Linked DNA regions of Homo sapiens: region 1 is linked to region 2. The links come from fine-mapping of genetic effects on gene expression. A gene starts in region 2. The other region holds a variant in brackets. All regions are shown on one strand. Distances are between the middles of the regions. Region 1 has its middle 44 kb from the start of ZNF157. Region 2 holds the start of USP11 (ubiquitin specific peptidase 11).

Region 1 (2,912 bases), 94 kb after region 2:
AGTGATTCTCCTGCCTTAGCCTCCCAAGTAGCTGGGATTATGGGTGCATGCCACCACACCCGGCTAATTTTGTGTTTTTAGTAGAGATGGAGATTCGCCATGTTGGTCAGGCTGGTCTCGAACTCCTGACCTCCAGTGATCCACCTGACTCAGCCTCCCAAAGTGCTGGGATTACAGGCGTGAACCATTGCACTTGGCCTTTTTATTTTTATTTTTCTTTCTTTCTTGTTTTTTTTTTTTTTTGAGATAGAGTCTCGCTCTGTCACCCAGGCTGGAGTGCAATAGTGCGATTTCGGCTCACTGTAACCTCTGCCTCCCAGGTTCAAGTGATTCTCCTGCCTTAGCCTCCCAAGTAGCCGGGATTACAGGCGTCCGCCGCCATGCCCAGCTAATTTTTTGTATTTTTAATAGGGATGGCGTTATGCCATGATGGCCAGGCTGGTCTCAGAGTCCTGACCTCAGGTGATCTGCCTGCCTTGGCCTTCCAAAGTGCTGGAATCACAAGCGTGAGACACCGCGTCCAGCCCCAAACCATTTGAAAGTTAGCTGCACACAGTAATACCTTTCAATTCTAAATAATTCTAAATAATTCCCTAATATTCTAAATACTTCCCTAATATTGCTTAATATCCAGTCCATATTTAATTTTCCCCAGTTGTCCTATACATCTTTTTTTTTTTTTTTTTTTTTTTTTTGAGACGAAGTCTCACTTTGTTGCCCAAGCTGGAGTGCAGTGGCGAGATCTCGGCTGACTGCAACCTTCACCTCTCGGGTTCAAGCGGTTCTCCTGCCTCAGCCTCCCGAGTAGCTGGGACTACAGACATGTGCCACCATGCCTGGCAAATTTTTGTATGTTTAGTAGAGACAGGGTTTCACTATGTTGACCAGGCTGGTCTTGAACTCCTGACCTTGTGATCCGCCCCCCTCGGTCTCCCAAAGTGCTGGGATTACAGGCATGAGCCACTGCGCCCGGCTCCCATACATCTTTTATAACTTTTTTAAAACACAAGACTAAGTCCAGGCTCATTTATTCCATACGGTTGCACCTCTTTAGTCTGTTAAACTAAAACAGTGTGTTCATTTTATTTTTATTAATTAATTATTTGTTTTTTCAGACGGAGCCTCCCTTTTGTCATCCAGGTTGGAGTGCAGTGGCACGATATGGCTCAATGCAACCTCTGCCTCCTGGGCTCAAGCGATTCTCTTGCCTCAGCCTCCCAAACAGCTGGGACTATAGGCACCCACCACCATGCCCGGCTAATTTTTGTATTTTTAGTAGAGAGAGGGTTTCGCCATGTTGGCCAGGTTGGTCTCGAACTCCTGACCTCAGGAGATCCACCTGCCTTGGCCTCCCAAAGTGCTGGGATTATAGGCAG[T/C]GTGTTCATTTTAAATATGCCGACCCCCAGCACTTAAAGACGCCTGTAATCCCAGCATTTTAGGAGGCTAAGGCAGGAGAATCACTTGAGTTCAGGAGTTTGAGATCAGCCTGGACAGCATAGTGAGACCCCCTTCAATCTCTACAAAAATAAAAATAAAAATATTAGGCAGGCATGGTGGCAGTGTTTTGTTTTGTTTTGTTTTGTTTTGTTTTTGAGACAAGGTTTCACTCTGTCACCCAGGCTTGAGTGCAGCAATGCAATCTCAGCTCTCTGTAGCCTTGGCCTCCCAGACTCAGATGATCCTCCCATCTCAGCCTCCTGGCAGATCACTTGAGACTGGGAGTTCAAGACCAGCCTGGGCAACATAGCAACACCACCTCTTGATTATAACATTATTACTTTTTGAAAAATGCCACCAGTTCATGTATTTAGACAACTTTATCACTATTGCTCAGGGGAAAAGCCTGTCTTGGTCTAGGAGAATTCCACAGAACATACTTTTATTTGGTAAAGTGGGAAATTCTAGGATCTGGTAGTGCATTAATCTAGTTACCAAAATGATACCACTCATACCACGCTTGGATTAGTAACTTTTCAAATAATTTGGAAACAAACAAAAAAACCGTTTAACATTAAAATTGAAAATAATTCCAACTTTGTTTCACTTGAAGAAGGCGGGTCCCAATCCTGTTGTGTTGCCAGTGTCCACGTTCCAGCTTTTTGCTAATCAACAAAGCCATCCTTTCTGTCTCACAAACTGTTCCCTGGACGTTTCACAATCTTTGTTGCACGCATTAGGGCTTTGTGGGTGATGATAAAAAGGGGATGTTTTGTTTCGTTTTATCATTAGGACCTTTAAAAGAGTAGCAAGTTATTCTGCTGGACTTCCCAAAATGTAGCTGGGAAGAACAATATAGCCGATCAAAAGCTGAAAATTACTTTCAAGGACTCAGGAAGGGAACGTGTGGTACGTGCTGCATGGTATCTGTTAAAATAGCCACTGTGCTGAAATCCCTTTGTGGGGAAAGGTAGAGATTTTTACAAATTCAAGACAAAATGTTACTTCTCTGGGTATGACCACAGTAACAAGGACACAGAAAAATAGGTCAGAACCAGAGGAAAGATGGGGTTATCTGTCCTGAGAATCAAAGCCTCCTATGGATCCTCACTCTGAGAGTGCCTGGGAATAAGAAGCTGAGTTTCATTGACAGCAGCAGGAAGTGCAGAGTGAGAAAAGCAGGAAGAAAGTTCTAGTAGCCACAGAAGTTAGTTGCTTTGACCACGGGCATGATACCAGAATTTCAGAAGTGACAGAAAAAGCAGGCAGACAGATGGCAGAGATGTTTGCTGGAACCCTCAAGCCCTAAGGAAGAGTCTTGATTATGTTATCATCACTTCTGAACACTTTAGTGACCATAGCTTTCAGTCTGTGAGGAAAAGCCCTGCTGGCCTTTGAGACTGGTGTGAGGGACTGTCCTGCTCTGGGAAATGTGGGAGGGCTAAATCGGAAAAGCCCAGGCAGGGTTTCTCTGG
Region 2 (2,912 bases):
GAGGTTGGCCTCTGGAAGGTGGAAAAAAAAAAACGGTCTAGGGCTGGGAAAGGAGGTCTCTTGGATTTACCTGGCTGCCCAGATAAATGGGGAGGGGGAGTCTGCAGAGGGGCAATGGGGAGAATCAATTCAGAGAATCTGACAAGATTCAACTGGGCTTGAAGAGCAGCTATCTGCCATGTGTCTGACTCAACTCAAATGCCACTTTCTTTGGGGACCCTTAAGTGAAAGGCCTGCTCCCTTTCCTCACCCAGAGCTTACACAACTGAGTTTGTGACCCCTCATCTATGCCAGGTCTGGGCTGGGGGCTGGAATCACAGTAATAAAGACACAATCCCTGCCCCGCAGAGATTAACTGAAAATAGGTAAATTATGAAATTGTGAGGGGGAAGGGAGGTTCGAAATTAAAGTCATCATCAACGGGGCTGGCAGCCCCAGCAGAGGAAAGAATAGCATAGCCTAGAGCAGTGGTTCTCAACCAGAGACATTTTTCCCCCAAAGGACATTTGGTAATGTCTGGAGATACTTGGTTGTCCTGAGGGGTACTACTTGGTATCTAGTAGGTAGAGGCCAGGGATGCTGCTACATATCCTGCAATGCCCACAACAAAGAAATGACAGTGCTGAGGTTGAGAGACCCTGGCCTAGTCCAAGGGTTCTCAAACTTTGGGTCTCGGGATTCCTTTATGTTCTTAAAAGTTTAAGATATTCAAAAGAGTTTTTGCTTATGTCATATAGCCTCTGGATTCAGAAGCCTCTGGATAATCACACTGTACACCCCTGAGAGAATGAGAGTGAAAAAGTATTGTGAAAATAGTTTTCATTTTGTGAAACCCCAAGAGGATTTTTGGACCGGTAGACAGGCTGGGACCACTGGGACCACACGGTTGGAGAATGTTTGGCCTGGTGTTTAAGGTCACAGCTCTGAAACCAGATTTCTCAAGTCTAAACTGCAGCTCCACCACTAATTAGCTGAGGGACGTTTCTGGTACTCAGCGTCCCCATTGTTACCCATGGGTGACAAGGACAGTACCTGCTGCCTGAGGCTACTATTTTAGTCCAATAAAGCACTTAAACTGGGCGGACAGCTAGTTTAGTTATGATTGCTATGACTCCAACAAACATAGGGCCTGGGGCTAACTTGTCTTCAACACCTTGTCTAGTGAATAAATCTAGTTCAGGAAGAGAAACAACAGCCCGCAGGCCTCGGTGGGTCTCTGGAGGTGGAAACCTCTTTTGCATTGGGTTTTGATGGTACAATGAAGGGCATTCTGATCAGGCTAACAAAAACACTGCTCCCAGGGTAGGAGTCCTAGCCCACCTCGGGAACCTCAGCCTCCACTTTCCATGCCACCTGTGCCCTAAGTCTACAGGGCGTTAGGACCCCACAAGGCACTTTTGTCTTTCTTGGTTCCCACTGAAGATTTTACCCCACCTAGCCCTTCGACGCGTCTGTGCACGGGGCCATTTCCAATATGGCAGTAGCCCCGCGACTGTTTGGGGGGCTCTGCTTCCGTTTCCGGGACCAGAATCCGGAAGTGGCTGTTGAGGGGCGTCTTCCAATCTCGCACAGCTGCGTTGGCTGTAGAAGAGAACGGACGGCGATGGCGACGGTCGCAGCAAATCCAGCTGCTGCTGCGGCGGCTGTGGCGGCGGCAGCGGCGGTGACTGAGGATAGAGAGCCACAGCACGAGGAGCTGCCAGGCCTGGACAGCCAGTGGCGCCAGATAGAAAACGGCGAGAGTGGGCGAGAACGTCCACTGCGGGCCGGCGAAAGCTGGTGAGGCTGGGCTGCGGTGGAGCCTCGGCAGAGGGAACGGTGGGGGCATTGACAACCGCTGGGGATTCGGCGGCCGAGGGCCGCGGGAAAGCTGCTGCGGGGTGCGGGGGCGGGGGAGTGGCCGGCGGGACAGCGGGCTAAAGGGGCGGGGAAGTGCCTTTGAATGAATCGCAACGTCTGGAAAAGGGGCGGGGCCTGTGTGGTGCAGTCTGACGCCTGAGAACAAAATGGGGTTTGTTGTGATGAGACCAGTTTCGGTCCTGGAGGTGGGGCCGGGCCTGCGTAGTGAAACTGCGTAGGAACCTGGGAAGAAGGTGGGTTCTGCTACATAAGGCGGGGGCGCGGCCTGCGCTGCGTAATGCAACTTTTGGGGGCGAGGAGCGGTTTCCGATTGCTCCGGGGCGGCTGGGAACGAGGCGAGCTTTGTGACGTCAGCAGAAGAGCGGGATGGAGCCGAACGGTCCGAGGGAGGGAGCGGGGACCTCCGTGGGGGAGGGGGGAGGAGCCTGGAGCCTGGGAACGAGGTTAGGTTGGTGACGTGAGCTGAGGGGCGTGCTCTGAGGCCGAGGGACGACAGTGGAGGGGAGGTGGTGCCTATGAGGCAGAAAATGGCGCCTGCGAATAAGCAAAGTTTATGACGCGCCGTGGTTTTTGATTCTGGCGGAAGCCTTCCCGAGTCGAGAGAACGTGCAGGTGATTAGCACCGGAGGGGCCTTCCATGTTTAATTGGTTTTCTGTGTTGGTACTGTTTTGTTTTTAGAATCAAGAAAAAGTCGTTTTTTTAAAAAATAGAATTTTGATAAATCGGCTTGTTTTACTGATTTCTTGCTAAACAGTCCTTCTTGAAATTTACTGCTTCTGAGTTCATTTTATTTCTCGCCGAGTTGCATCTCGTTTTTTAATTGTGAAATACGTAAGACTTAAAAAGATTATATAAAACATTTACGCAGCCCAGATTGACGGACATCCTGTTAAAATAAACGGCCTACACTCTTCAAAAATGTCAGGATCATGAAAGACAAAGGCTGAAGAACTGTTCCAAATTGAAGGAATTAATGCAATTTAACGAGTCATGATAACTAAATGCAACATGTGATCCTCGATTGGATCCTGGAACAGAAAAAAAAATTATT

Evidence for each region. PIP is the estimated chance that this variant, and not a neighbour inherited with it, causes the effect.
Region 1: its variant is fine-mapped to the expression of USP11 in tibial nerve (GTEx, PIP above 0.99).

The regions. Positions count from the first base shown.
Region 1 is chrX:47,324,981-47,327,892 of GRCh38, forward strand. No RefSeq gene overlaps it. Among named protein-coding and RNA genes, the nearest start is that of ZNF157, 44 kb to the right of the region's middle. The variant T/C (reference allele first, on the strand shown) is at 1,377.
Region 2 is chrX:47,231,441-47,234,352 of GRCh38, forward strand. It overlaps USP11 (ubiquitin specific peptidase 11), which reads left to right and starts at 1,569. Exons shown (of 21, transcript NM_001371072.1): 1 at 1,569-1,779. The coding sequence starts at 1,604. RefSeq lists a cis regulatory region at 1,224-2,446 and enhancers at 1,449-1,498, 1,924-2,507.